Linked DNA regions of Homo sapiens. The protein of the gene in region 1 interacts with the protein of each later gene in a pairwise test. Each region holds a gene or a part of one and is shown on either strand. Other genes may lie near its edges.

What was found.
Region 2: the proteins of LUC7L2 (region 1) and NFYA interact in binary tests that used the Homo sapiens proteins (3 or more experiments, as listed by UniProt).
Region 3: the proteins of LUC7L2 (region 1) and SRRM4 interact in binary tests that used the Homo sapiens proteins (3 or more experiments, as listed by UniProt).
Region 4: the proteins of LUC7L2 (region 1) and SRPK2 interact in binary tests that used the Homo sapiens proteins (3 or more experiments, as listed by UniProt).

The regions. Positions count from the first base shown.
Region 1 is NC_000007.14:139,418,775-139,425,234, reverse strand, and holds the end of LUC7L2 (putative RNA-binding protein Luc7-like 2), read right to left. Parts: intron 3,073-6,460; coding exon 2,895-3,072; 3' UTR 1,781-2,894; downstream 1-1,780. Other genes in the region: FMC1-LUC7L2 readthrough protein, read right to left, coding at 2,895-3,072. UniProt on the Homo sapiens protein: May bind to RNA via its Arg/Ser-rich domain.
Region 2 is NC_000006.12:41,074,915-41,083,313, reverse strand, and holds part of NFYA (nuclear transcription factor Y subunit alpha), read right to left. Parts: intron 8,048-8,399; exon of another isoform or gene 7,965-8,047; intron 7,838-7,964; exon of another isoform or gene 7,616-7,837; intron 4,286-7,615; 5' UTR 4,225-4,285; coding exon 4,150-4,224; intron 2,504-4,149; coding exon 2,417-2,503; intron 1-2,416. UniProt on the Homo sapiens protein: Component of the sequence-specific heterotrimeric transcription factor (NF-Y) which specifically recognizes a 5'-CCAAT-3' box motif found in the promoters of its target genes.
Region 3 is NC_000012.12:118,976,760-118,985,582, forward strand, and holds the start of SRRM4 (serine/arginine repetitive matrix protein 4), read left to right. Parts: upstream 1-4,781; 5' UTR 4,782-5,123; coding exon 5,124-5,254; intron 5,255-8,823. UniProt on the Homo sapiens protein: Splicing factor specifically required for neural cell differentiation.
Region 4 is NC_000007.14:105,378,060-105,386,458, forward strand, and holds part of SRPK2 (SRSF protein kinase 2), read right to left. Parts: intron 1-8,399. UniProt on the Homo sapiens protein: Serine/arginine-rich protein-specific kinase which specifically phosphorylates its substrates at serine residues located in regions rich in arginine/serine dipeptides, known as RS domains and is involved in the phosphorylation of SR splicing factors and the regulation of splicing.

The DNA.
Region 1 (6,460 bases):
AAAGTCTTTGTTTAAAAAACAAGCCTGGGCCGGGCGCGGTGGCTCACGCCTGTAATCCCAGCACTTTGGGAGGCCGAGGCGGGTGGATCATGAGGTCAGGAGATCGAGACCATCCTGGCTAACAAGGTGAAACCCCGTCTCTACTAAAAAAAAATACAAAAAATTAGCCGGGCGCGGTGGCGGGCGCCTGTAGTCCCAGCTACTCGGGAGGCTGAGGCAGGAGAATGGCGTGAACCCGGGAAGCGGAGCTTGCAGTGAGCCGAGATTGCGCCACTGCAGTCCGCAGTCCGGCCTGGGCGACAGAGCGAGACTCCGTCTCAAAAAAAAAAAAAACAAAAAAAAAAACAAAAAAAAAACAAAAAACAAAAAAAAAAAAAAAAAAAACAAGCCTGGCAGGGGTAGGGCAGGGAGGGGTTGCTCATGCCTTATACTCCCAGCACTTTGGGAGGCCGAGGCGGGCCTATCACCTGAGGCCAGCAGTTCAAGACCAGCCTGGGCAACACGGCGAAACCCCGTCTCTACTAAAAATACAAAAATTAGCCGGACGTGGTGGTGCACGTCTATAATCCCAGCTACTCGGGAGGCTGAGGCAGAAGAATTGCTTGAACCCAGGAGGCGGAAGTTGCAGTGAGCTGAGATTGCACCATTGCACTCCAGCCTGGGCAACAAGAGTGAAACTCCGTCTCAAAAAAATAAAAAACATACCTATTTAAGGAGGCTTTTTTCCTTAGTTTTAGTTGGTGTTGATAAGCTCAGCAAAGGAGCTTTAGGGTAATACTTGATGACAGCAAAATGAAGGAAACCTTACTGAAGGTAAAAACTTAGCAAAACACTCCCCAGAGGGACAAAAGTTTTTTGCAAATACAATATACTTACTTATGCTTTCTACCAGTCACCAACACAGAAAGACCAAAAATTGTGTATGAGAAAGTGATATTAAGATTTGAGATTTTATTCTAATTCAGTGGCATCAATCATGTAAAGAGCCATGCGGTTGAAGTGGTCCGCTGTGGCACGCAGCCCCACAGTGATGGTGCGCTTTATGCCCTGTTCATGTTGGGGCAGCCTATACCATCTAGAAACCACAGCTGCAGTAACCATTGATATATAGACCTGTGTTACTTCTACAAGTGTTCCATTCCAACTGTACATATGCTTTAGAGTTCAAAATCTAAGTCCAGATATACTATTATAATGGGCCAGGTCCCAGACATTCTTCCTCACACCAACCAGCTAGTCCTTTTGATCTTACTCCGAACCCCAATGTACGAAATCTGAAGTGCTTGTAAGGATTTAGAACAGCACAGACTACCCGGAACAAAGGAGATACAAAACATTTCTTAGCAACCAAAAATAAAAGGGAAATGGGCCACTGAGGCAGATGGGTCTCTCAGATTAAATGCCATATAAATTGCATGTGTGGAACCAAATACAGCAGAAAACCCTCAGTTAATGAGGCATAGCTTGGTAAATTGGGAACTTGATGAGGGTTTTTAACGTAATCTGGTATCACTTAGAATGGCCTTAGTTTCCCATTCTCTCAGCACCTTCACAGAGGCCCACATGCCTCTGACATCAAATCTGTCAAACTTGGGGACAAAGGACATTAACAGTTCTTGAAAGGTGACCTTAGTTAATGATACCCACAGATACTAATTTCATTACTTAAGGAATCTGTGTTCCTCAGAATTTCCAGAATCACAAGTGATACCTGCCAATTACAGTTTAAGTTACTAACGGATATACAACTCTTCAAGGCAGAAACTTAAGTCTCATTATGTTGGTTACATATACTGTTTTTATTTGGGTTTGTTGAATGAGAATAAAAACACCCCAGTTTCTTCTGCAGGTCGAGCCCTTCTCTATAACGGTCATTACAAACAACCCTGAAGTGGCTGGAATATAGTCAGCAAGGGGCCCACATGAACAGCTCATCTGGAATCTTTGCAAGTACGTATTTATGTCCTTTGGTGCCTTGCACAGTAAGGCACTGTTAATGACGTAACAGAATAGAGGAAATGCCCACAGCAAATAGTTCTAGTGACAATTTACTAGACAAGTTACAGTTTAATAATGGTGGTGGTGATTGTTTCTTTCATTTTATTATTATTATTTTTTTACAATAAGGGTGTAGCCTTTATACTCCACACACACAAAATAAAACAAGTGCTTATTACGAAAAGAGTCCCTGCCCCCACCCCCTAGAACATCCTGAACATAGCAATTCAACAGAACAGAAAAATCAAGACGTTTGATTTCAAAATTTCAATAAAAAAGCAAAAGTATGTAATGCAACAGCTGTTCAACTTCCAACTCTAAATAGGCACCATTAAACAAAAAACCCCAGTATTTTAAATTTCTCCAGCACACATTCCAGGATCAATGCTCTGAACTGTAATCAGCTAGTAATTCATAACGGGAATACAGCCTTAGAATGGAAGCTATATTGCTTCCCTGCCCCCTTTCTCTTACAATTGGAGAGTGTAGGTATTAAGGGATACAAAGTCAGAGGAAGAATAATTAAAAAGAAAAATGCCCAAAGCTGCAGCTGTTTGGACTAGGAAGACAGCATTTTACAAACGTTCAAAAAATCCCAAGGCAAGTAACACAATTTGTTCACTAGCACTCTTACTTGAAAGAATAAAGAGATCAGCATCTTATTATATAAAACTGTACTTTCAGAACTGTATTACAGGTTCACCAGAAACTATGGATGTAGTTTTAGGCATCATCAAGGAAAACAGGTTCAGTTCAGATCAAGTTAGATACTGTACATCTAGCCTAGCTGGATCTGGTGTCTGGATCTGCTCACTGTCACCCTGAACAGCTGTGAACTAAACAATAGTACGTAACTCCGTAGGAAGCTTAAGGACTGAAGAAATGTACACAGCTAGTTAGATCTCCCCTGCTTCGCGCTCTTCAGAGCTCCTCCTGTCTTCTGATCTGCCATTAGCACTCTCATAGGACCGCTTCTTATCTTTCCGATCTCTGTCACGAGGTGATCTGTCTCTTGAACTCCTGTCTCTGTCACATGATGCTAAGTCTTGGTCTCTGAATCTTTCTTTTGAGGATCTGAAAAATATTAATTTGAGGAGCAAAATATGTTGGGAAACCCAAAAACCCAAATTAAAGAATAGGATAAATATTAAGCTCTTGATAGCTGAAGATATATAGACGAATATACCCATGACAGAGGAGTCAGTTTTCTGACAAATTACAGAGCACTACCATAGTTGATAAGGGCATTAAAACAAGAAGATGGGTGAAAAACAAATAGCAGAGGGTCAGAAGGCTAAAATAATTTCTTACAGGCTACTCTCATCTCAGAGACAACACAGAGTTTCTCCAATTCATAAAAGGTATTTTAATATAAAAAATAATACATAGATAACAGCTTTAAAAAGTGAAAGAAATGTATTATCTAAATTTTAAATGGCTTAGAATAGGGGCCAGATGGTGACTATCTGGGGTACTGCAGGTCCATGCAATCTTTGTGGCAGTTCTTTTCTTTTTAGAATGTAAAAACCATCCATAGCTTGCTGGTTGTACAGGCTACCGGCCAGATTTGGCCTATCGGCAACAGTTTGCCAACACCTGACTTAGATAAGAGAACTACTCAATTATTAATATGAATTTAAATAACCACTTCTAAAAATCTACTCATACTGAGTTAGCTTATTCAACCAACAAGGGGAAATAAAAAAAGACAAAGATGCTCACACTAATAAATCTTGATTAGCCATAACTGTTTACTACCTTCTCCATTCCCATACCCAACTTCATTATAAGAAAGGTAAATAATAAATCAATCGGAAAACCAAACATATTATGGAATCAGAATAAACATGGAATCTTCCATACTTCCAACATCTAAAATTCAACAAATTACATTTATTTGGTTCTTTACAGGTGACACAGCACTTTTACATAATTATCTCACTCAACCCATATTCAAAATTAGGATCTGAGGCACTACCAAGAACCTGAATAAGTAATACTTTCAGGAAAATAAAAAATATGACTGTTCAGTTTTAGAAATATAGTTAAGGAGGGTTAAACAAAAAATGGTTCTAAAATAATGTCCACTTTGAACATTCTACTTAATGTTTTAATAAACTTAAAATGATATAAAAAGACTGGGCACGGTGACTCACGCCTGTAATCCCAGCACTTTGGGAGGCCAAGGCAGGCAGATCACTTGAGGTCAGGAGTTCAAGACCAGCCTAGCCAACATAGTGAAACCCCCGTCTCTACTTAAAATACAAAAAATTAGCTGAGAGTGGTGGCGTGTGCCTGTAGTCCCAGCTACTCGGGAGGCTGAGGCAGGAGAATCACTTGAACCTGGGAGGCGGAGGCTGCAGTGAGCCCAGATCGCATTACTGCACTCCAGCCTGGGTGACAGAGCAAGACTCCATCTCAACAACAACAAAAAATCACAGTGCCAAGTCTAGTGATTCCACGTCTACACTAGTCCTATCCATAGCCTTTGTTGGAATAAAATATGAAAAGAGATGGTAAAAATGATACCTAAAAAGACACTAGATGCCAAACAGTCCCAGTGATCAGTAATAACTAAAAAACTATGAGTATCAACTACTATGTCCCACACATAGTGGTTTCCATATACTATTTTACTCAAACTACCAATAATCTTAACAAAGCAGGTATTCTTACTTTCTCCACTTAGTAGATGGGGAAAGACAGGTGAGATAGTTATAAATTACTTAGCCAAGGTGGGACGTGGTGGCTCATGCCTGTAATCCCAGCATTTTGGGAGGCCAAGGCAGGTGGATCACCTGAGGTCGGGAGTTTGAGACCAGCCCGGCCAACATGGCGTAACCCTGTCCCTACTAAAAATACAAAAATAGCCAGGTGTGGTGGCCTGGGCCTGTAATCCCAGCTACTTGGGAGGCCGAGGCAAAAGAATCGCTTGAACCCGCAAGGCAGAGGTTGCAACGAGCCGAGATCGCGCCACTGCCCTCCAGCCTGGGTGACAGAACGAGACTCTCGTCTCAAAAAAAAAAATAAATTACTTAGCCTAAACCAATGAACCCAAGTAATCTGACTTTGGAGTCTGCACTAAACATGTTTGAACAGAGCAAAAAGATAGATAGATGCAAATGGTCCTCATTTACGCAGGGCACTATTGCCAGGAAGAGGTCACAAAGAATCTACTTGTATCAGAGACAAGTATTTCACAGTAGGGAAAGGAGAACAGCAAAACATAAAAGGCTTTCAATAAGAACTTTTACCTTGAAAAATTAAACCCAAATATGTAGCAATAACTTGATGTTGTATGAAATACCAAGTAGGTTTTAACAGCAATTATCTGGTAATTTTTAGTATAAAACAAAGAATGATGCTTTAAAAGAGAATAATTTGAATTCAAAGATGAGAAAGTGCTCGAGAAAAGCAAAACTTTTAATAGTTTTACAAAAATAATCCTCTTTATGAACATGCTGACATCTTAGATATGATCATGTATCATGTATGGTGGAAAAATTCCTATACAACTTCATCAACGCAGGAAGCATCAGGGACTAAAATAACACAATCTCAGATTAGGGGACTTCACGCCCATCCTTCCCATACCCATCACCAATAAAGACATTTAGGAGTTCAGCAACAACAATGACAGTTGGGCAGATTTGACACAGGAAAATGTCTAAACCTTCCATCACCTAGCAGGATAATTCTGAAAATTCATTGTGCAGATAAGACAGGTAACTTTTAAAAAATGCTTATTTCTGAACACTGCACTGAGGGTAGACCCCCAAAATCAGTTTCAAGAGTGTGAGATAAGAGGCCTACAAATCACTCTGTCCTTTACAAACTCCCTCCTCATTCTCTGCATTTGCCTAGGATATTCACTCTATATGGAATATCTTTTTCCTAGCTGATTCTACCTGTTCAAATTTTACCGACTACCTGAAGCCATTTTTGATTACTCTGTTATTTGCCTCATCTAAACTCTCGGATCATTTATTCTATGATATGCAGTTTAGCACTTTATAACATGTGGTAGTCTTATGCCAGTCTAATTATTGTCAAAGATGTCAATCCTTTGTTCTAACTCACATAGGAGACTTTTTGTTTTTTTTTTTGTTTGTTTTTTTTTGTTTTGAGAGCTGGAGTCTCGCTCTGTCACCCAGGCTGGAGTGCAGTGGTGCGATCTTGGCTCACTGCAACCTCCACCTTTGTGTTCAAGCAATTCTCCTTCCTCAGCCTCCTGAGTAGCTGGGATTACAGGCATGTGCCACCATGCCCGGCTAATGTTTGTATTTTAGTAGAGATGGGGTTGGTTGGCCAGGCTGGTCTTGAACTCCTGATCTCAAGTGATACGCCCATCTCGGTCTCCCAAAGTGCTGGGATTATAAGCGTGAGCCATGGCACCCAGCCTCACATAGGAAACTTCTTAGAGCAACTTAAAGTTGTTCAACTATGTTATACGTCTTTCTTA
Region 2 (8,399 bases), on another chromosome or scaffold:
ACAAATATTGAAATTACACAGAGCAGTCAAGTGTACAAATTTCAAGCTCCTATGAGTAAACAGACTACTGTAGGAGCCAGGTCACTACAAGTGCTCTGTCACATCTTAAGTCCCAATACAAAAATACCTAATAGAATGCTTTCTGGAAGCACTTTAAAAGTGCTTTAGAAGTAAACTGTAATGATCCATGGAATAGTCCAAAATTTTCATTTTCAGACTCTATCTTTGACAGAAATTACTTAGAACAGAATATTCATGACTGAAATATTCACACTTAATGAAAGTATGTGCAAGTAACAGCAATTAGTTAACAGATCATTCTGTCCTAGATGAGTAGGTTAGATAGTAAGGTCCTCCTACAATCACCACCACCACCGCCGCCACTGCCACCACCACTAATGTATTAGAATCACCAGGAACATTGAAATCCTAAGTTTTGTTAAACTGTCCATTGAGAACCTTTACTTTACTTTTTTAAGGACTTTACAGCCTGACTCTCTCATGCTATCTCTTTCCCTTATTTCCCCATTCCAAATCAAATCCCCTTTGCTACACCAAATGCTTGCATATTCTGTATCAAGAAAGATTTCTCAGAATACATATAGCAAGAATAACCAAAATAACTATTTAAAATTCTCCCAAAATAATCAGATCCCTAGAGGAAAGGTTTCTATTATTTCCATAAAGTGTTTCCACTTCTTTTAAATAAAATCTATGTAAGTAGGAAACACAAGTTTTAAGATACAGCTATTAATAATTTTCTATCTATTCATCATCTTAATTTCCTCCCCAATTGATGTGCTATTCGTGCACATGATAAATGATTTGAGACTCCAAAGAGCTCACTGTATTTACAACAGAAAAATGTTACAAAGACACATGCATCAAACAAGAAGCCATACAGTTAAGAGCATGTTACATTCCTATTCCACAAGGGGTTAATGACAATCCAAAATACTGTTTTATATATGAGTAAGATGAAGCAAGCATGAAAAACATTAACAAGCTGTTGGACTGTGAGATTTGAACACAATTTTGGAATGCCTACAAGCTCAGTTTCTTTCGGCTTAATTTATGTTCAAAGTTGGCTGTACATCATTACCAAACACTATTGGTGGCAGGGGTAGGGGTGGGATTGAAAGGATAAAGTGATGACAATAAGAGGTAGTTATCTGCTGGATGCTTAGCAGCACTAGCAATAAAGTGAGATGCCAGTTCTACATTCTAGATTCTACTTTGAATCATTTCTAATTCAATGGAGGGAAAAAGTAGGGTACCCAAATCTTGCCAATTTCTCAAAAATAGAGTTATTTTAATAAAAGTAACCTACATACACAGAGTAGACTAGTGCTGCTACTCCTGTGTTTTATAGGAACTGGCCAAATTAGAACCCAATTTAGGATACTTAGCCATACACGATGCTAAAGAACTGTATTGATTAACCAAGAATTATCACAGTGGCTTTAACACCTAAGACTTACAGAAAGCACATCCTGCTTCTGCCTAACCAAGAGGTATCTGGGGTAATCTTTGCAGATCTAGTAATAAGACAGGTCACTATTCCCCCAGGAAAGGTAGTGGAAACAATAGCAGTTAACAAGAGATTAACAAGATTCAGTGCTTAGATAAACCTTGCCAAGTGCAATGATTATTTTTCAGTTGAGTTGCCCCTTGAATAAAAATAAAGCACAGCCTAGCCTAGTTTATGTGTGTCTGTATATGTATATATTTCCTTCTCCATTGTAACACAAATACACAAAATTTTTACCATGCAATTAATTGGATCAGAGTGTGAGCCCTGAATAAATTCTTTTTTTTTTTTTTGAGACGGAGTCTCGCTCTGTCACCCAGGCTGGAGTGCAGTGGCGCAATCTCTGCTCACTGCAAGCTCTGCCTCCTGGGTTCACGCCATTCTCCTGCTCCAGCCTCCCAAGTAGCTGGGACTACAGGTGCCCGCCACCATGCCCGGCTAATTTTTTTGTATTTTTAGTAGAGACAGGGTTTCACCATGTTTGCCAGGATGGTCTCGATCTCCTGACCTCGTGATCCGCCTGCCTCGGCCTCCCAAAGTGCTGGGATTACAGGCGTGAGCCACCGCGCCCGGCCGAGCCCTGAATAAATTCTAATGTCACTTATAAGAATTTCTTCCTGTCACTTATACCATTTCTTTTCCAGGCATTCTCAAAGAAACATGCTAGTCAAATCCAATTCTCAGAAAGTTGATACGGGGTCTCTATATGACTTGGCATGAAATATTAGGAAACTGGCATCTTATAAGCCTCAAAGACAAGTTAGCAGCATCAAAGACATGCAACTGACTTTGCCATTCCTACTGGAGATCCTAACACAAACAGCACCAGACATGAGGAGAGGAGAAGTTCATGCAGTGCTCACAGAGAATCAGAGAGGGTACCACTACCTGGAGGGTCTGGACTTGCTGGCCTGAGGCGGATGCCACCTGGGCCTCAGTCTGCAACTGCACAGCAGTGACACCACCCTGCTGCTGAGAACAGGAACAGGAAGAGCTTGAAATATGTCAGGAAGGAAATGTGTAGTTCAAGACACAGATCACCTTACCTCTTGGAGGAGAGAGACGGAAGCCTGAAGGACTTTCAAAATGTACAGACTCCCTATATTGAAGCTGTTTTGTTGAAGGTAGTAGGATTAAAGATATTAGCCCTTTGTCTCCAGAGTGGACCTCAAAAATTTGACTCAAAAACTCAAAACAGTTGTCATCATTAACACAAAGATTTGTAATGCAATCTTTCCCTCCAGAAACAGGAATCTGACACTTCTACTTACACAATTGTTTAATGCCCTTTTTATCTCCTCAGATGAGTTCACAAGAAAAAAATGATTAGGTTTTAATAGCCCTGAAACTACCATAAAAAATTCTGGGCTTAAATGCAATCACCAAGAAAGGAGGAGTAATTAATCACTATGAACCGAAATCATCTTCATGACGTCAATGCTCTCATGTCCCAAAACTAAGATTCTTTTTTTTTTAAACTTTATTTATGTACTTATTTTGAGATGGGGTCTTGCTGTTTTGCCCAGGCTGGTCTTGAATTCCTGGGCTTAAGCCAACCTTCCTGTCTCAGCCTCCAGAGTAGCTGGGATTACAGGCATGCAGCACCATGCCCAGCTTCAAAACTAAGATTATTTCTACCCAACTGGACTGCTTTAAGAGCCATGTTTTCAATGATTCAACCTTATTTTTACATCCACTAATGGCAAATTCTGAAAGAATAAAAACCCACCCTCCAGGGCACTGGTGTGAATGGAGGGCCCTTTGTGGAATCCCTTCCTCTAAAAAGGCAGTTGAAGGAAACTGCCAGAGCCACAGCAGCTGTATGGAAGGGAAAGCTATCAGGGGAGTTCGTCTTTGATCATTAGACGGGAAAAACTCATCATCAATACTACCTTTCCCTTCCCTACTACTTTTCTATATTAGCTAAATTCCATTTTGAAAACAAAGTATTTCCAAAATATCAATCTTGGCCTAAGGTCAAATAGAAACATAATACATTTTTTTCTTCTGGGGTGGGGAAAAAAGTGAAATTTTACTATAATAAACCCAAGCATAAAGCATCAGAAAATGTAACCTGTGTATAAATTCAAGAAAGCAATCTATTAATTAGGAATAAACCAGCAGCAGGGAATTCCTTTCTAGTATGTCTTATCCATAAGAATGGCTGTCTAAATATTATCCTAATGTTAAACCAGAGCTTTTCTGAATAAAAAATGTGGCAGACCAAATCAAAAAACAGAAGATTTATTGGAAGCTATGTTGGTTTGTCTGTTGTGGCCAAAGACTTACTAAATCACAAGTTAGCTCAAACAAGAAGAGAAAAAGACCAAATAGAATCCAGAAAAATTTTAAAGTCCAAATTTCCATCTGAAAACCAGACTAGATGTTTTTACTTAAAATGAGATAAAAGAGGCAATTTACTATAACCAGGCACCCATGAAGAGTAGATTCTAAGTGGTCATGGGCTAGACATGGCATTTCAGCACAAGCCATCAGACCCAATATCTCACAAGATCTGGTATCTTTCAAATAATTCCCCAGGGCAATAGACCAACCAATTGAGTGGTGCTGTTATCAGTTTCATTGCTGTAATGTTTAAAGCAGTTTTGCTTCCATACCTGCTGCTGAATCTGTCCTGCCTGGACAACAATCTGCTCTGTCGAACTATTGCTGTTTGCTGTATACTGCTCCATGGTCCCTCCAAGTGAGATTCCTGTCCACTCTGGAGATCCTAGAAGGCTGTGAGGTACACTCCTGTTAGAAAGGTGGGGAAAGAAACTAAAGTGAGATTGTCAATAAAGGCCTTACCAGACAATTAACCTGGATAATTTATCACTGTACTTTATTTGCAAGAAAACAGGATAGGAGAATAGGAAATGCTTATATTCAGTATCATTTTTAACTGGGATTACATGGCACAATCATAACAACATAATGCTATTTTCACGTTTCTAAAATGCTTTCAGTATACTGGCAACCTTACCTTTCAATACTGTCAGAGCAATACTTGCACCTAAGAGATACTCGTTAAGCTACATCACTTTGATACAAGGCATACCTAACACTGATTTTCAGGTTTGCACATATACTTTAGAGAATAAAGCTTCTTTAAGTTGTAACACGTAATTGCTTCCCACCAAACATGTTACTCAGGTCCACTACATATGGTAGGCAAAATTTACCCTTCTCATAGACTTTAAGAGTTGAAGATCCACTTTTAAAAATAAGGATACAATTAGATAAACTGAATGATATCTGAGAACCTTTAATAAAGACTTCATTAAAAAATTAAAATGATATAAGTTAGCAATCGGCAATTCATCTTGGAAATATGGGAGGGAGGACAGATATATAAACAAAAATGTAGATAGGTCTTTCTCTCTGATTTTTCACTAGGCCCTCATAAATTCCAACATCTGAATAATAAAATGACGTGACCTAACTGAGCTGCTCATTATCGTGGCAAAGTACAGTACCACTCTCCATAAATCCACACATGCTGGTGGAATTAATCATTTGCAAGGTGTCTCAATACAGTGTGAAAGAAGAAACCAAAATATGTGCAACTATATGTCCAAGTACTTAGAAAGAAGTGTATTGATATCTAAAATTTACTTTGAAATGCATCAAAAAATGGATGAATGGGTGGAGAAATATCTGGTAAGGCAATTATAGTAAGATGTTAATAGACCCTAACTGGCAGGTATACAGGTGTTTATTTTCAAATTCCTTTGATTTCACTGCACACTTGAAAATTCTTATTTCTAGAATAAGAATTTTGAGAAATTCTTATTTCCCAAATGAATGTTGGAATGTTAGGAAAAATATAACAAAATTTAATCAAAATAAAAATTAATCAACCCCATTACTCATAACCAAAATGGATACAACATAAGAATCTATGAGCCATAAATAACAGGCTATGTCATCACAGCAAGAGGACTTGTGGCCATATGGTTCTCCAAAGCACTGCCCTTGATCTAATGGAATGCTCGCTAGGTAAATTTCTAGCTATAATTTGGATTTACATATAGATTGGCCAACAGGGAGCAAATATAATCAGCAACATGACAAACCGGTTTTCTGATTTTTACACCAGTCTCTTTGGAATTGGTTGACTAAGTCTGCTCCTCAGAGATTCTGGGTATAGAATAGAAAATCAGGTTTTCAGCCAGACTGTGAGTCTGTTAGGGGCACTAACAGGCTTCCCTAAATTCTATCTTGTCTCTAATACACAATACATTTATGGCTATAAACTAATAAAATTAAGGTTATGATGTAAACGAATATATATGATTCCATTTATATAAAATCTCCAAAAGACATCAGTAATCTAGAGACAGAAAATGGATCAGTGGTTCCTTGGGAGTGGAGAATACAGGGAGACAGGAAAGAGGGAGGTTGACTGGCATGGAGCCTTAGGAACATTGTAGGGTGATGAAAATGTTTTATATCTTCATTGTGGTAGCAGTTGCACAGGTGTACAAATTTGTCAAAACTCATCAAAATACACATTTAAAATTATTATACTTTGTTTCTAAAGTATCTCTCAATAAATTGATTTTAAAAAATAAGGATCATGAAAGGAATGTCTTTTAGGTTTCAACGCCTCCCCAACTCCAAATTTCCTTCTTATATGAGATTTTTTCCTTGACTAATATCCAGAAGTTTACATCTTTACAAGACTAAATATAACTTGAAGCACATAATGACTAATATATGTAACGTACAGATTTTCTTCTTAACTAGTTTATTCTGGTAATACAAATGAACCAATTTAGCAATATTTAAATTTATACTTTGAAGAGTATCAAGATTTGAAGAGCAGCTTCAAATCTAGCAGCAATTCTCTCTCACATTAATGACAGAGTGATTTAGCCTGTATCATGATATTGATACTGTTAATGGTTAATGCTATAAGCAACTGGCTTCAGTAAAGTCATATGTTCCTACTACTGTGAGCTTCAGTTAGCAAGACTGCAATACAATTCGATAGTCTTTCCCAAAGTGCCTCTTTGCCCAAGATTATGACAAACTAAGCCAGATTTAGTCTGTCTAGCTCTTGCTCTTAACACAAAGTTTTGAATGGTTTTTCCTCAAAGAGAGAGAAACAAATAATAAGTGTTTATTCTGGCTAGCATGAAAATTCTCTTCCTAGTGCATTCTCTTCTCAGTGCAATTCTCTTTGCCCCACTATTCCAAGGTGCAAAAGCTGAGACTTAGCCAACCACTTACTAGGAACCCATTCTATGTGGACCTACACAAACTCCAAAGCTAAAACCTCTTCAGAAACTCAACTAGTGTAAGCATATGAAAAGCCATAGGATTATCACAGTTGATAATCACTACCAGGCAAAGCCTAGAACAGTAGCTTTTTAACTTTTTTGACCACAACCCTTAGTAAGAAACACATTTCATTATCACAACTCAGTGCACACATGTATAAAGCATGTAACTGAAATGAAAGTTTCATGAAACAGCATTTACCTTTATACAACACAAGATGCACTTTGGTATTTTCTATTCTTTTTTTTCTTTTAAGAGAGGGGGTCTCCCTATGCTACCCAGGCTGGTCTCAAACTCCTGAGCTCAAAGGATTCTCCCACTTCGGCTTCCCAAAGTGCTGGGATTACAGTCGTGAGCCATCATCATGCCTGGCAGATATTTTCTATTCTATTATTTAAAAATTCCCAGCATTGGCTCACTCAATTTCTTTCACAACTCAACAAGTGGGTCCTGATAGACGCTTGATGAAAGACTAGACTACAACAAAGGGCTGTCCAGCTTCCCCATCATCCTACAGATTTCTGGATTGGAGCTTTCTAATGCACTTCTCTCCACTAATTATGTACCATGTGCCAGACACTGTTCTGAAGGTTTTAAAAATAAAAAGAAATCTCTGACGAAGATTCAAACTTCAAAGAGTCTTTAAGTTTAGTAATGGACTAAAAACCTATACTGGAATCCTAAGAGATAAAGTGATATGGGAATTTGGAGGACAGAGATTTGTTCCAGCTGGGGATAAATCAACAAGGCTTAAAAAAAAAAAGGTACTACTTGAACTTTTTTTTTCTTTGCTATCAGAGGCCTGCAGGATGAACTGGTCTTAAGTGTGAGAAAGATTTAGCTATGTGATGATGTGGAGGAAGGTGAAGTACTACAAATCAAGAGAGCATAAAAACAAGAACAGAAATATTTCAGCATGTGAACAGTGGACTAAACAGGAAAAAAAGCTTGGGGCCACACTACTTTCTCTCAAAATGTCAGACAAAGAAATTCTTCTGCAGACTGGTGGAAGCTTGTAAGGTATTTAGCAAAAAAGTTACCAGATTATAATGCCTTTTAGAAAGATGCCAAGCAAAAGTATTTAGTGATTTTGAAGTGACCAGAACATACCTATTTTTAAATACTAAGGTTAAAACATCTATTTCAGGTCAGGACGCAGTGGCTCATGCCTGTAATCCCAACGTTTTGGGAGAACAAGAAGGGAGGATGGCTTGAGCCCAGGAGTTCCAGGTTAGTGAGCTACGATTGCGCCACTGTACTCCAGCCTGGATGACAGAGGAAAGCCCTGTATCCAAAAACAAACAAAAAAACGTTCCAAAGGCAAATATACATGTTTTTTAGACTACTTAAGCTCTATCATCTCATCTGCTAATGCGGATAACGTGACAATCAAATGAATTAAGAAAATCACTTAAGCAACAATGAAAAACTCACCCTAAAAAGTGAAAATAAAACCTGTCCCCGAAGTTTTAGTAATGAAAGAGCACTGGAATACGAGTTTTCTGAAACCTATTAGTTGTATAACATTAAATGTGAATTTAGAAATGGGCACCAGATACTTAAGACCTTTATGTGCCAGGGA
Region 3 (8,823 bases), on another chromosome or scaffold:
CGATGAATTGGTCTCATTATCATATTTCCCATCATCTCAGTAATTATTTGAATCTTTTGCTGTTCCCTGGACTTTTAGAAATGGGTACAGACTGTCAAGTTCTCTGATGCTGGTAGATAATGGTTGGCTCCATTGTACTCAGAGAAATCGTGGACACAGAAAGATTAAGAGATTTACCCAAGGTAACATGGTAATGTTAGTGAGGTGGGATTTGAACTGCCTCAGGAGAAGGGGTAGCTATTTCTCTGAGCTGGAGGTGCTGTATCTTTGGATCACTAAGGAGAAGGTTGCATAAGAATCTTCTTAGCTCCTGCTCTAGAGTGCCTGGGTTTGCAAAGTTTAGAATCATTTCTCCCTGCTGTCCCTTTTTTCAAATGAAAGAACAATACCAATCAGGTAAAGAAACATTCTCTAGACATGGATGGCAAATTGATTTTATCTGGAATGCCAAGACCAAACTATTAGTAGTGGCTATCTAGAAACTGTGTGTTAAGAAGGATTCTGAGGGTCGGTCTGAGAAAGAGTATTGTGAAGGATCAGTGATGTCTACCATCAGTATAGCACAGAGGGCAAGGAATAATTGTGCCATAAGTTTATATTCATTAACCAGCATATTAATAGGTCCTTGTTTATGGGGTGGGCTGGCTTGCATCTGGGGAAACAGAAAGCAATACCCGGAAGGAATGAGGCACAAGATGGTTCTATTTTAATAAAGTGATGGAGGAACTGGAGTTCACGTTATATTGGAGAAGCCAGACCTAAAGCAGAAGTCACTGTGATAAGATGAAAAGGGGACAAGTGTTAGTCAGTGGAGACCCAGAAGGAGAATTAGGCTGTGAACTGCTTCAGGGAAGGGACTATGTCTGGTTTGTCTTTGAGTCCTCCGTGCCCAGGACTGTGCCTGGCCAAGATGCAAGATTGGGCATCAGTTAATGATTATTGAACTGAATATGGCCTGACTTAACATAGTAACAGGTGATTATTCCAAGATCATGAGCAAGAAGAGCTACCATTGAATGGTCACTTGCTATAAACTGGACAATTTATTAAGTCCTTTACCAGTAATATTTCATTTAATCTTCCCAACCACGATGTGATATCTCCACTTTTGCAAATGAGGAAACAAAGGCAGAGGTTAGTTATTAGCCCAAGCTCATACAGCTACAAAGTGGCAGAGCTGGGCTTCATATCCTAGTTCTCTCTAAATCCACAGGCTGGGCTTTTAACCACTTGAGTAATTGATATTTTTGAGTAAACTGTGTTTCAGACACATTCTAGAACCTGTATGTGTGTTAATTCCTTCAATCCTCACAGCTAGTTCATCTAAACATATTATTTATAATCTTTATAGAATCTTCATGAAACCCCATCTCTACTAAAAATACAAAAAAAATTAGCTGGGCCGTCGTGGCAGGCGCCTGCAATCCCAGCTACTAGTGAGGCTGAGAAAGGAGAATGGCTTGAACCTGAGAGGCGGAGGTTGCAGTGAGCTGAGATCACACCACTGCATTTCAGCCTGGGCAACAGAGCGAGACTCTGTCTCAAAAAAAAATTCTTCATAGTATTGATAAAGAAACTGTGACATAGGCAAGTGAAATCCCTCCTCCAACATTACACAGCTAGGAAATGGCAGAGCTGGAATTTGAAGCCAGGCATTCTGGATTCCAAGTCCTGAACTGATTACTGCAGACTCCCAATTTAGGAACCTCAACACCAGGTGCTTCTAAGTATGTGACTCATTGTTATCTGATTTATTTTTAAATGGTGGTCCATCCTGATATGCGTAGTATCCCACTCCATCCTCCACCCCACCAAGCAAAAACAGAAACTGTATTTTTCACAAATTTCCTTTGCTTCCTACAGGATCACCCTGGGGAAGTCACTTGGTCATCCTCAACTTCTTCATGTTTAAAACAGAGTAAGATCGAATAGCAGGTCTACGTTTTTTAACTTTTATTTTAAGTTCAGGGGTACAAGCGCAGGTTTGTTACATAGGTAGACTTGTGTCACGGGGGTTCGTCGAACAGATTATTTCATCACCCAGGTATTTAGCCTAGTACCCATTAGTTATTTCTCCTGATCCTCTCCCTCCTCCCAACTTCCACCCTCCAAAAGGCCCCAGTGTGTGTTATTCCCATCTATATGCCCATGTGTTCTCATCATTTAGCTCCCATTTATAAGTGAGAACATGTGGTATCAGGTTTTCTGTTCCTATGTTAGTTTGCTAAGGATAATGACCTCCAGCTCCACTCATGTCCCTGCAAAGGACATGATATTCTTTTCATGGCTGCGTAGTATTCCATGGTGTATATGTACCACAACTTCTTTATCCAGTCTATCACTGATGGGCATTTAGGTTGATTCCATGTCTTTGCTATTGTGAGTAGTGCTGCAGTGAACATACACATGCATGTGTCTTTATAAAAGAATGAGCAGGTCTACTTTTAGTTCTTTGAGAAATCTTCATACTGTTTTCCATAGTTGTTGTACCAATTTACATCCACACCAACAGTGTATAACTGTTCCCTTTTCACTGCATCTACACCATCTATTTTTTTTTTTTACTTTTTAATAATGGCCTTTTGGGGGTAAGGTACTATTCGGGTGACAGGTATGTAAAAGCCCAGACTTCATCACTATACAATTCATCCATGTAACCAAAAAACACTTGCACCCTTAAAGCTATTGAAATAAGATAAATAAATAAAATAGAATAAGATCAGCTTTCTCTCCCACCTCATCTGGCTACGATGGGATTTTAAAAAGGCAATGTTTTGCATATGGGAGCTCTATCAACATTTTAGGGATTAGGAGCAGGCACACAACTGGAAGATGTTGACTGATCTTGTGGGGGTAGGATCCCACCTACCTCTCTCCTGCAAGTGACTCAGTTCATACCCTAAATGTCATGACTAAGGTTAGTTTTAAAGATGCCAGTCTGCTACCTATAAGAAGCCAGCTCTAGATTGCATTTACAATGATACCAACTTCTGGGTGGGAAACGGGGGTCTAGCCCAATCAGGGAATGGGGGATTTGGGGCGCAAGGTAAGAGGGAGAGGAAGGGAAGGGGTTAGCCTAGTCTCCACTTTGCTCCATCTCCAACCTTCCCAGGCCTGACCCCCACCTCTGGGCCCTCTCCCCCGGCAACCCACATAAGAAGCCAGCAAATGCACCTCTCGTTGTTGACCAGAAGGGGTCACTGCAGAGCAAGTAGCGCTCTCAGGCACTCAAATAAGCGGACGCAGGCGTGTCGAACACACACACTTCAAACGTAGATACCCTTTGGGGCGGGTACTCATTTACTCCAAGGTTCTTTCTTCTCCTGCCCCATCTTATCCTCTCTGTTGGCCTCTTCATCTTCACCTCCTAGTTACCTCCTGTTCCCCTTCAGAGAATTTCTGGAGTTCCCATTGTTCTCCCGACCCCCCCGCCCTACCCCGCCCTCATTGGGTCCCCATTGCTATCTGCTTTAGCAAAGAGCAGGAGTTTATTCTCGCTGTGACTGGGACTCAGCACCAGGTGCTTGGAGGCATTTAAGACTGAGCGAGGCCTCCTTCCAGGAATTTACAGCCTGGAAAGTGGAAGCGGGGTTGGGGGGAGGGGGAGGGCGTTAGGTGGGAGATGGGGGAGTAACAACTCTGCTAAGATTAAAAGGCTTCCAGGAAGGCAAGGGCTGAGGGGTCCCGCCACGATCTCTTTTTTTTATAATGAAAACCCTGGGGGAAAACAAGAGTCATTCTAACCAGATCTTCTGTGTCTGGGGTTGATTTGGGATTCTAAACCTCCACTTGCTTGGGATTACGATTGAACTGCGAGGCGGTAAGGAGATGGGGAGGAGAGACCGAAAAGTAACTATCCCCCTGCTAATCCTCGAGATTTTCCTCTCCAACCCTCCCACTAAGCGCTTTCTTTTCCAAAACGTACTCCTTTCCCGAGACTAGCGGCATTAGGAAAAGTGGCTGCAGGCGGATTCCCCAGGAGTGGATGGGGGTGGGGTGGGGTGAGATGGGAACTCTTTCCTCTGGACGGGGTTGGCGGCGGGGACGCTGGGCAGGCCGGCTGTGAGACACAAAAGAGATACCCTTGACAGCTCCGCATGCACAGATGTAACGCTGCGCCCCTTGGCGGGCGGGGGCCCTGCTCGGCAGATGGCGAGAAGCCGAATTGGTGAGGGATTGTCTATCAAATGGCACTTTCTGGGTGGTGGAGACCTCGCTAACCCCCGGCGCAAAGAGGAACGCAGGGCACCCTCTGTACCGGCCTAGGCCGTGTCTCCCAAAAGTGAGGGTCTGGGGGAGGCCGGCTGGGGTGGATAGATTAAGTTTTTTACGAGCCCCCCCAACCCCCCCCCCCCCCCCACGCAGAAGATCAGCTACAAGACTTGCGAAGGGGCTGGAAAGAAAGGTGGCCTGGCCCAAAGGGGGCACCCAGGAAAGGGCTGAGGAAGGCCAGCGATGATGGGAGAGGAGAGGGGCCTGGGAAGCAGGATCTCCTGCCTGGCGCAGATTGGGGTGCCAGGATGGCTTCTCAGAGGGATCAGCGCTGCAACTCGGTCGCCGCGGGGCCCTGGTGACAGGCGCACGCCCCGCCCTTTCTCCTCCCAAGACCTGCGGGCTTTTGTTATGCAGATGGCGGCAGGAGGCTGAGCCTGAGGAGGAGGGGGTTGGTGGGGAGGAGGAGAGACGGAGAGGGGGGAGGAAAGTGCAGCTCGCGCGACCAGCCTCCTCTTCCAACGTCACATTGTGCGAGAGACAAAACCCGGGCGCGCCGGAGCTCACACGCGCACGCACACACATCCGACCCCGTCGCCTCTTCTCTCCTGGTGCTGCCCAGAAAGCCAGCCCTCCCTTCCCTTCTTGGGGCGCAGAGGCTCAGCCAGCTCAGAGCGCAGCCTGGAGCCGACCCAGAAGGGCGAAGAAAGCCCAGCGGACGAGCCTCCTTTCTCTGCTGCCTGCCCGGGCTGGGGCGTCCCATCCCCCGCCCTGAACTCCGATCTCTCCCACCCCACCCCTCTCTGGGTTTCACCCGGACAGAGCCGGGAGCTGGGTGTCGCCCCCGTTTGGAATCCACGTTTCAGCACTTTGGACAGCGCCCCGGACGCCCCGGCCCCTTTGGGTTGGCGATGGCGAGCGTTCAGCAAGGCGAGAAGCAGCTTTTTGAGAAGTTCTGGCGAGGAACCTTCAAAGCGGTGGCCACCCCCCGTCCCGAGAGCATCATTGTCGCCAGTATCACGGCCCGCAAGCCGCTGCCAAGGTAATGATCTCCTTCTTAGAAGGGGGGATCCTGAAGGTCCTCCTTTCTGGCCTGTGCCCCAGAGCCCGGAGGGGTGGATGCAGGCAGCCGGGCCAGGGCGCCTGTCTTTTCCCGTCACTACTCGGCGGCTCCCGCTGAAACATGGGAACTCATTGCTTGTGTGAGGTGGAAGATGGTGAGAAGGGACAGGAATTCTTTGGGGGAAAGCAACGCTTATTGGACCCCCGTAGCTCCTATTCAAGAGGTTTTGCTACCTGAGGGTGGGCGGTGCAGATGGGGTACGACTTGACTGAAAAACTTTTCTTGGTGTCACAGAGTCCAGAGGGCAGGTGGGCCAAGGAATGGTGGATTTGAGATGTTTGGGGGGTGTTGTACCAGAAAAGGAGAACTGAGCCAGCTCAAGCAGCGTTCAGAGATAGCACACATTTCCATCCTCGGCTCGGAAACTAGCGAGCTTTGAACATTTTTGACAAAAGCCCATATGCTGTTCCCTCAAATACACCCAAAACAGCACCCTCCTCCACGCCTTTCTGGCGGCTGCTGCCGCTGCTGCTGAATTCTCTCCTCTCCAGCATCCAAAACCAAGACTCTGAGCTCAGGAGTCAGGGAGGAGCCTTCCAAGATCGTGAAGATGATCTTGGAAGAGTTTTATTTTGTTTTTTTTTGTTTTTTTTTTTTTTTTCCAAAAAGAATCTGATTGCTTTGAACTCAGGGATGAGAACCGATCCTTGGATGGTGGTAGACATGGTGCTGATGGAAGGAAGAATAAGGGAAGAAATGAAAGAAACAGGGGAACAGGAGGTGGGGTGAGAGGGAGAGGAGGTTGGGGGAAAATGGAAGCATTCCAAGACAGAGAAAAATCCAATTCTTTTCATAAATCATTCAATTTAGAGGAGTTTAAGAATGAAGGGAAGAAGGCTGTGCTCTCTGTCAGGGAAAATCAAGGTAGTATGAAAACTCATCTTTTGCTGGTGTTGGATGAGTGGTTTAGTAGGAGAAAAGAAAGAAGTGGACCAGGGGGACCACTTGGAGGATTTATTAATCCTGGCAGTCTGCATTAGGGAGCAGATTGAAAACATGTCTGCAAAAGTGCTTAGGACAGACTGAACGTCTGTTCTGGCACAACTGATTCTGAACTTTCCAGTGAGTGTGAGGTGGAAGACGTATGGGAAATTATGTCTGAAGAATCAAAGCCAGATTGGAGAAGTTTTCCTCTTCACTGTCTTATTGAGGATCATACAGGTCTTTAGAGAAATAGGTGTCCCATTTAGGAATGGGTGGCCAAGCATCACAACAGGCCAGTAGGGTGTAGCAGGCTTCAAGCTAAAGCAGCACCAGCCAGTGTTTGCAGACGGGAAGGAGGGGACACCCACCCACCCACTGACACAGGCTGGAGAAGGGGAACAATAATACCAAATGCCATTAAAGGCTGATGCTTCTCTGCTCCGAAGGAGGTTCTGTGTATAGAGTTTTGACGTCAGTGGTTTTTATCTTCCTGGGTTTCTGCTATCTATTCCACCTTTGGAACGTACCTACTGTTGGCTAATCAGGTGCTGCACTGGCCAAAGAAAATGCCCTTGTAGAAGGAACTAGAGGAAATTTCACAGGAAACTAGAAGTATGGCATTTAGTCCAGAGTCTTCCATCTATTTTAGGGGTGCAGGGAGAGGAAAGCGGATTCTTGGTGGTGTTTTGATTCAGGAAAGCACACCTATTATCTGCCTTGCTTGGTACTTTCCACTTTTGTCTGTCTCTCTGTTACTGTCCTGCCCTTTTCTTGGTCATATTTGCAATCACATGAATGGCCCACAAGGTCTTTCAACCCTCATCCTTTCTGCAGCTTTTTGCTAATTCTAATGTAATCCTGAGACTTTTATAATACTCCACTCCCCCTCTGCAACCAGTATCATTTCACTCTTGGTGCCTTTTAATGTCGTGGGTCTCCTTTGCCCTAGAAACCACCCCTGAGGTGAAAGCCTGAACCATAAGCCCTGGATTTATGTCACGCTAGGAGAATCCTGTGTAATACTTCTGTAATAGGCGTGGCCTCTCTGTAGAACAGATTCCGGTTTTATAACTGTTACTCCTGGTTTGGGGTAGAGAGTGAGAAGGGAACATTTGTTTCCAAGTCCTCAGGAAAGGTTGGATTGGAGTTGTCTTTTAACAGACTGGATAAAACCTGAATCATCCCCATTCTCACCCAAGCCAGCCACATCCAGTGACATTCAATTTCCACTTCCTTTTCAACATTCTACACTTACTTAAGGGTGAAAGTACCATGTTTCCAAAGCTGAGTTCTCAAGAGGAAAGAAGACAGAGGCATTGGCACAATATCAGCTGGGTTTGGGTGGCTTCCTCTAGAGGCAATCTGGGGACTTGGTCTCATCAGAAATGTCGTTTAGTTCCATGAGTCAAGCCCAGATCACAGTCGGCAAACCAGCACATGTAGCAGTCTGCAGGGGGATGGCAGGGAGTGGGTGGAGGAACCACTAGTCAGTCCTGTTGGTGTCACACTTAATATTTGTTTATAGATGAAGGCCACCCCTCTGAATAAACTTCCTCAGGATATTTTAAGTCTATCTCTCAAGGTAATTTAGTACCAGGATAGAAACATATATTCAATTCATTGATTTCATAGCAATATGCATACATCATGCAACTGCAATCTAAGCAACCCCCTGCTTAGTCTCTCTTTCTCCTCTACCCCTCTGTGGGGCATACTTGATGAGGCAATAGCTTTATAATGTATCAAATTGCAACCAGATGTCTGCCTCAAATGTCAGAACAGTAGAGCAGAGTGGGAAGCAGTATATCATAGTGGTTAAGAGCTCAGACTTGAGCATGAGACAACCTGGATTCCTGTCCTGGTTCTATCATTTACTAGCTGTGTATCCTGAACAAATAGTTTTACCACACTGAGCTTGAAAATAGAAATAATAACAGTAACCCCTCAGACAACAGGTTGTAAGGATTTAGTTAGGTAAAGCTCTACCCCTATGTGTGGTGCATGGTGTTGTTTAGTAGACATTGACTCTGGAACAAAGCTTATAGTGGCCAAAAGGAAAGCAACAACTCCTCATCATTGTGTTCTCCATGCCTACCCATTTCTCCCCCAAGTAATGCTGACCATTTTTATTGGGATTTCAACTCCTGATGGACAACTACATTCAGATGAAGTTAACACACATGAGGCAGGGTAGAGAGTGGTCCCATAATCCTCGTCTCTGAGAAGAGGCTAACTGCTTTCTGATCTGACTGTTTCAGTTAGGGGGTTGGGGATAATAAATAATTATCTGGATTCAGAATTGATTGGTATAACATTTCCATGGAGCATTCTGTTGGTTTGTATAGAGAAGACCAGGTACTGTCAGTCTAAAGAAAGCTCAAACTTCTTGAAAAATCACAATTTTAATCCCACGGTTTCATCAAATCTACAGTGACTATGTGATTTATAGTTTATATCAAAATGTCTTTAAAAATGAAAGAAGGTGTCATTAGTAATTACCTAGGATGGAAGATCTAACAGAGATCATCCCAGGCAAACCAGGATGTACAGTGGTCCTTGTCAAA
Region 4 (8,399 bases), about 34 Mb from region 1:
TATTTATTGCTTACCACACCCTGCACTCCAGCCCTACTAACCTGCTTGACATTCCAAGACTACACGCCATTTTAAACCCCACATGTTGACACCAACTGCAGTGTTTCTTCGGCATGGAAGGTCCTTGCCCTGCCCCCTTATTTTACTTGGAGAATTACTGGTTCTTCCAGAACCAGTTTAGAATGCCCTCCTGATTTCCAGTTTGCTTTTAGATTACAAAATGATATCCATAATGATTAGAAAGATACATAACTTATACATACATCCGAAAAAGAAGTCATCTGAAAATCTACAAATTTTTATAAATCAGTAAGAAAAACTTACGACACAATATTTTTTTTAAAGGGTAGGGGGCAAAAGACTTAAAAAGGCGCTTCACAAAACAGGAAACTCAAATGACCAAGAAACATATGAAAAGATGTTGGCTGGGCCTGGTGGCTCACGCCTGTAATCCCAGCACTTTGGGAGGCCGAGGTGGGCAGATCACGAAGTCAAGAGATCAAGACCATCCTGGCCAACATGGTGAAACCCCATCTCTACCAAAAATACAAAAATTAGCTGGGCACGGTGGCACACACCTGTAGTCCCAGCTACTCAGGAGGCTGAGGCAGGAGAATTGCTTGTACTCAGGTGGTGGAGGTTGCAGTGAGCCGAGATCATGCCACTGCAATCCAGTCTGGCAACAGAGAAAGACTCCGTCTCAAAAAAAAAAAAAAAATGATGTTTAACATCATTACTCAGGAAAATGCAATTGAAAACCATAATGAAATATCAATACACACCCATAATAGGTAAAATTTATTACAATGACACTGCCAAGTGTGGGCAAAAATGTGAAGCAAACTTAAGTGTCTTTACACTTGTGGGAGAGTAAAGTAGTTCAATCAAAACTACATCTTTGAGCCTGGGCAACATAGGGAGATCCCATCTCTACAAAAAATTTTAAAATCAGCTGGGCATGGTGGTGCTCACATGTAGTCCCAGCTACTCAGCAGCCTGAGGCAGGAGGATCATTTGAGGCCAGGAATTTGAGGTGGCAGTGAGCTATGATTGTGCCACTGTCAGCCAACAAAGCAAGACCCAGTCTCTAAAAAAAAATATATATATATATATAAAGTCAGCCCTCTGAAACTGTGGACTCTGCATCCATAGGTTCAACCAATCATGAATCAAAAACAATCAAAAGTAAATAAATAATAACAAAATAAAAACTACAAATTAAAAAAACACCATGTAACAACCATTGACATGGTATTTACATTGTATATATATTATTAGTAATCCAGAGATAATTTAAAATATACAGGAGGATGTGTGAAGGTTACAAGGGACTTGAGTATCCTCAGACTTTGTTATTTGAGGGTGTCCCAGAACCAATCCTCCAAGCGTACTGAGGGATGACTGTATATTCTATATGATTTCATTTATATGAAATTCAAGAACAGACAAAACTAATCAATAATGATAGATATCAAAAAAGTTGTTGCTCCTAGGTGGTAGAGTATAGACTCGGGAGAGGCATGAGAAAACTTATGGAGCATTGAAGGGGTTTTATATACTGATCTACATGGTCGTTACAGGGGTATAAATAAATGTAAAAAAAATCATCAAACTGTACAATTAAGACGAATGCACTGGGCCAGGCGTGGTGGCTCACGCCTGTAATCCCAGCACTTTGGGAAGCCGAGGCGGGCAGATCACAAGGTCAGGAGATCGAGACCAGCCCGGCCAACATGGTGAAACCTCGTCTCTACTAAAAATACAAAAATTAGCTGGGGAGTGGTGGCACGAGCCTGTACTCCCAGCTACTCAGGAGGCTGAGGCAGGAGAATGGCTTGAATCGGGGAAGCGGAGGTTGCAGTGAGCTGAGATAGCGCCACTGCACACCAGCCTAGCGAAAGAGCAAGACTCCGTCTCAAAAAAATATGAGTGCACTGCCAGGCATGGTGGTAGGCACCTGCAGTCCCAGCTACTTGGGAGGCTTAGGTGGGGTATCACCCAAACCCAAGAGGGTGAAAGCGGCCTAGGCAACAAAGCAAGATCCTATCTCTAAAAAAGAAAATTAAAATTAAAAATGATGTTTTATCCTTAAGAGGGAGTTTCACTGCGTCGCCCAGGCTGGCACTAAGTGGTGCAATCTCAGCTCAAAGCAACCTCTATCTCCCGTGTTCAAGCAATTCTCCCACCTCGGACTCTGGAATAGCTGGGACTACAGGCATGTGCCACCACTCCCAGCTAATTTCTGTATTTTTAGTAGAGACGGGGTTTCATCATGTTGGCCAGGCTGGTCTCAAACTCCTGACCTCTAGTGATCCTCACTGATCTTTAAAAGATCAATGCACTTTACATACATGCATATACATGTATGCTAGGACTCAATTTTTGAAAAATGAACAAAACCATGCACAAGTAAAAGAATAACACACCAAAACAATTAGATACCCTAAATTAACATGCTAAAATTTTTTTTTTTTTTTTTTTTGAGATGGAGTCTCGCTCTGTCGCCCAGGCTGGAGTGCAGTGGCGCCATCTCAGCTCACTGCAAGCTCTGCCTCCCGGGTTCAAGCAATTCTCCCGCCTCACCCTCCTGCATAGCTGGGATTATAGGCACATGCCACCACGCCTGGCTAATTTTTGTATTTTTAGAAGAGACGGGGTTTCGCCATGTTGGTCAGGATGGTCTTGATCTCCTGACCTTGTGATCTGCCCACCTCGGCCTCCCAAAGCGCTGGGATTACAGGCGTAAGCTACCACGCCCAGCTGCTAAAAAATTTTTAAATTAAAAATAATTAGTGGAGCCACAGCTGACACTTGCTTCTTAAATCTTCTGTATTATACTGAATTCTGTACTGAATTTTTTACCATGACCATATTACTTTTATTACTTTAAAAAAAAAAAAAAAAAAAAAAAAAGCTGGGCCAGGGGCAGTAGCTCATGACTGTAATCCCAGCATTTTGGAAGGCTGAGGCAGGCAGATCACTTGAGGCTTAGGCCAGGAGTTCCTGACCAGGCTCTACTAAAAATACAAAGAAAATAAGCTGGGCATGGTGGCGCATGCCTGTAATCCCAGCTACTTGGGAGGCTGAGGCATGAGGAGCGCCTGAACCCAGGAGGCAGAGGTTACACTGAGCCAAGATCATGCCACTGCATTCCTGTCTGGGTGACAGAGCAAGACTGCCTCAAGAAAAAAAAAAAAAGTTATTTCATTAAAATGACAATATTAAAATGAAATCTGGCCAGGCGCAGTGGCTCAAGCCTGTAATCCCAACGCTTTGTGAGGCCAAGGCAGGTAGATCATGACGTCAGGAGCTTGAGACCAGCCTGGCCAATATGGCGAAACCCTGTCTCAGTGAGCCAAGACCAGGCCACTGCAGTCCAGCCTGGGCAACAGAGCAAGACTCCATCTCGAAAAAACAAAACAAAACAAAACAAAAACAAAAAAACTAAGCACTACTGTACCTAAATCTTACAGTTCTCATCACACTGTCCTGCAATGGTCTTTTCACAAAGCAATCTCTTCTACTTTAATTATCTTACTCTTCTAGCATCCAACACACACCCTGGCACTAGCTATCTGCAGCACTAGGTATTTGCTTCGTGTCCATTTACTGTATTCTACTGTAGAGGTAGTAAGCAAAAATGTTTGTTGAATAAACAAATGTGTAAAAAAATAAGAAATGAAAATTAGGTAATCCATGAGAAGTATTCCAAAGTCATGGGCTTATGAGCTTGAATTTATACTACAGGGAAGTATAAATTCAAGGGTTGAGGCTTACTGAATAAGGATATAAACTTGTATCATTACATTCCAAAACTGTCTCACCAAGCTGGGCACGGTGGCTCACGCCTGTAATCCCAACACTTTGGGAGGCTAAGGCAGGCAGATCATTTGAGGCCAGGAGTTCGTAACCAGCCTGACCAAGATGGTGAAACCCCATCTCTACTAAAAATACAAAAATTAGCCAGGCGTGGTGGCACATGCCTGTAGTCCCAGCTACTTGGGAGGCTGAGCCAGGAGAATCGCTTGAACCTGGGAGGTGGCAGGTGCAGTGAGCCATGATTGCGCCAGTGCACTCCAGCCTGGGCGACAGAGCAAGATGCCATCTCAAAAAAAAAAGTAGAAGCAAAGTATACCCAGATATCCTTTAGCCTGTGAATAAACTGTTAATCCACACAATGGAATACTTGTTACCAATAAAAAGGAAAGCACAGCCAGGCACGGTGGCTCATGCCTATAATCCCAGCACTTTGGGATGCCAAGGCGGGTGGATCACCTGAGGTCAGGAGCTCGAGACCAGCCTGACCAAAGTGGAGAAACCCCGTCTCTACTTAAAATACAAAATTAGCCTGGCATGGTGGCACATGCCTGTAATCCCAGCTACTCAGGAGGCTAAGTCAGGAGAATCGCTTAAACCCAGGAAGCGGAGGTTACGGTGAGCCAAGATCGTGCCACTGCACTCCAGCCTGGGCAACAAGAGCAAAACTCCATCTCAAAAAAAAAAAAAAAAAAAAAAAAAAGGAATGCTCTGCTCACACAGGCAACAACATGGATGAATCTCAAGGGCATTACGCTGCATGAAAAAAGGCGAATCACAAAAGGTGACATACTGTATAATTCCATTTATATAACATTCTCAAAGTGGCAACATTAAGTGATAGAGAACAGATCAGTGTTTCCCAAGCTTAGATTTGAAGAGAGAGTGACTGTTCTTTGTGGTAATGAAACAGTTTGGCATCCTGACTGTGGTGATTATTCTAATCTACACAAGTGACACAATTTGTTAGAACTACACAGAGAGTGCATGTAAAACTGATAAAATCCAAGTAAAATCTTTCTTGAATTAATAACATTGTCTCAATGTCAATTTATTGGTTTCAACAATGTTCTATGGTTAAGATATCAACGTCAGGGAAGTTGAATAAAGAGTACACAAAGAACTCTGTACCACTTTTGCAAGGTCTTGTGAGTCTGAAATTATTTCAAAAGTAAAAATTTTTTTTTTTTTTTTTTTTTTTTTTTTGGAGACAGAGTCTCGCTCTATCGCCCAGGCTGGAGTGCAGTGGCACAATCTCGGTTCACTGCAAGCTCCGCCTCCTGGGTTCACGCCATTCTCCCGCCTCAGCCTCCCAACTAGCTGGGACTATAGGTGCCCGCCACCATGCCCGGCTAATTTTTTGTATTTTTTTTTTTAGTAGAGACGGGGTTTCACCGTAGCCAGGATGGTCTCGATCTCCTGACCTCGTGATCTGCCCACCTCAGCCTCCCAAAGTGCTGGGATTATAGGCATGAGCCACCGCACCCGGCCTCAAAATTAAATGTTTTAATAAAAATTTTACAAGAACAAAAAACAAAACAGAATTTTTTTTTTTTTTTAATTGAGACGGAGTGTCGCTCTGTCACCCAGGCTGGAGTGCAGCGGCATGATCTCGGCTCACCACAACCTCCGTCTCCCAGGTTCAAGCAATTCTTCTGCCTCAGCCTCCCGAGTAGCTGGAACTGCAGGAGCACACTACCATGCCAGGCAATTTTTGTATTTTTAGTAGAGACGGGGTTTCACCCTATTGGCCAGGCTGGTCTCGAACTATTGACCTCGTGATCCGCCCACCTCATCCTCCCAAAGTGCTGGGATTACAGGCATGAGCCACCACGCCTGGCCAGAAATAGAAAAATTTTAAGGAACAATGGATAAATGGATAAAATGTGGCATATTGACACAACTATTCAACAATATAAAGGAATTAAGTACTAATACGTGCCATAACATGGATGAACCTTGAAAACATTGTTCTAAGGAAACCAGACAAAGCCACATACTGTATATTCCATTTACATGAAATGTTCAGAATAAGCAGATTCATAGAGACTTAGAATGTAAATTAGTTGTTGCCAACGCAGGGGGAAGGGGAATGGAGAATAACTGGGAAATAAATATGGAGTTTCTTTCTGGGGAAGTGAAAATGTTATAGAATTAGATAACGGCTGCACAATTTAATGAATAGACTAAAAATCTGTAAATGGCCTACTTTAAAAGGTAAATTTTATGGTATGTGAACTATATCCCAATAAAAGTTATGAAAAAAATAAATGAAAGAGATATTTTAAAAATTGTACCTCCATATAAACATACTATAAGGCAAAAATTTATCCCAAGCTATGTGATGTAGCTAATTCCTAAGATTTGTGACTAAACAGCACTACAGTCCTTCCGTTCTGCCTGTTACTCACAAAGCAGCACAATTAATAATAAGCAAACTAAACTCACAGGACAATCTAACAGGATTAAAATTTTGACCCACTAAATAATCTTAATCTTATTCCTGACAACTACAATTTCCAGTGTACCATAAAAGTAGCCTCTAGGAACTGGCTCAATTCATAAAAGCTCACAGATTTGAAATGAACTAAAATTAATTAAAAGCCTGCTTGTATATACAAAAGTAGATAATGACAAAAGTAAATCATATTATACCAAGCCAGACCCACAGTCACATAATTCAAGTTTGCCAGTCATCATATTAATAGTTTAAAATTATACCTATTACTCCTTTTCCTCCTCTGGAAAATTAATCAAAAAGCAAAAACCGTGCTTCAAGAGACCTGAATTCTGATCCAAACGAAGCTATTGTGGGCTTAACCTGTCAGAGCTGTCTGTAAAATTCGGGGTACCCTGAAAATACTAGTCTCCTGGAGATTCTTTTACCACTTCTCAGGTGCCACTCCTCACACACTCAACGTCACCCGGTTTCCCATGCACTACTGCAGGCCACTTCTGTTTCCACTACTACCCCCATCCCCACAATCTATTCTCCACATAGCAACCTTTTTTTTTTTTTGAGACGGAGTCTGGCTCTGTCGCCCAGGCTGGAGTGCAGTGGCGCAATCTCGGCTCACTGCAAGCTCCGCCTCCCGGGTTCACGCCATTCTCCTGCCTCAGCCTCCCGAGTAGCTGGGACTACAGGCGCCCACACGCCCAGCTAATTTTTTATATTTTTAGTAGGGACGGGGTTTCACCGTGTTAGCCAGGATGGTCTCGATCTCCTGACCTCGTGATCCGCCCGCCTCGGCCTCCCAAAGTGCTGGGATTACAGGCGTGAGCCACCGCGCCCGGCATTTTTTTTTTTTTTTTTTTTTTTTTTTGAGATGGAGTCTCGCTCTGTCGCCCAAGCTGGAGTGCAGTGGCACAATCCCGGCTCACTGCAAGCTCCGCCTTCCAGGTTCACGCCATTCTCTCGCCTCAGCCTCCCGAGTAGCTGAGACTACAGGCGCCCGCCACCATGCCGGGCTAATTTTGTTTTTGTATTTTTAGTAGAGACGGGGTGTTAGCCAGGATGGTCTTGATCTCCTGACCTCGTGATCCGCCCGCCTCGGCCTCCCAAAGTGCTGGGATTACAGGCGTGAGCCACCGCGCCCGGACAGCAGCCCTCTTTTTAAACAGGAATCAGAACCTGTCCCTTCCACATGTAAGCCTCCAATGGCCTACGAGGGTAGACACGCTCTGACTCCTGCCTCCCATCAACCTCTCTGGGCCACTCAGGCCACTCTTACTTTTGGGTTTCTCGAATACTTCCAGCCCATTCCTCCCCAGGGCCTCTGCCACACTGGATCTCCTCCTCATTCTCGATCCTGCCCAAATGCCATTTCTCAGAGAGTGGACTCTGGTCCCGGGCTGCCTTGATTCAACAGCTGGGCATGTTACTTACTTTTCCTGTGTCCCTGTTTCACCTGTAAAATGTCCGTAATAACGGTGCCTACCTCTTAGGGTTGTCACAAGGTATATGTAAAACAATCGACAGAGTGACTGGCACAGTGTTCAAATGTCATCTATTATTATTACTTAACATGTCCCATCTTCATTTTCTTCCTATCCCTTAGCCCTATCTGAAATTATCTTGTCACCCTCTTTGTGGTTTTCCCCAAACCTCCCAAGGTTAGCTTTGCAAGGAGCTTTGTCTTGTTCAAAACTCTATCACCGGCCGGGCTTGGTGGCTCACGCCTGTAATCCCAGCACTTTAGGAGGCCGAGGCGGGCGAATCACGAGGTCAGGAGATCGACACCATCCTGGCTAACACGGTGAAACCCCACCTCTACTAAAAATACAAAATATTAGCCGGGCGTGGTGGCGGGCGCCTGTAGTCCCAGCTACTCAGGAGGCTGAGGCAGGAGAATGGCGTGAATTCGGGAGGCGGAGCTTGCAGTGAGCCGAGATCGCGCCACTGCCCTCCAGCCTGGGCAACAGAGCAAGACTCGGTCTCAAAAAAAAAAAAAAAACAACCTCTAACACCATCTCCGAAGACAGACATGTAAATACCTATTGAAGACATGAATAAATAAATAACATCAAACAGTTCTTTTAAATAATATCTTGATTCAGGTCGGGCACGGTGGCTCACACCTGTA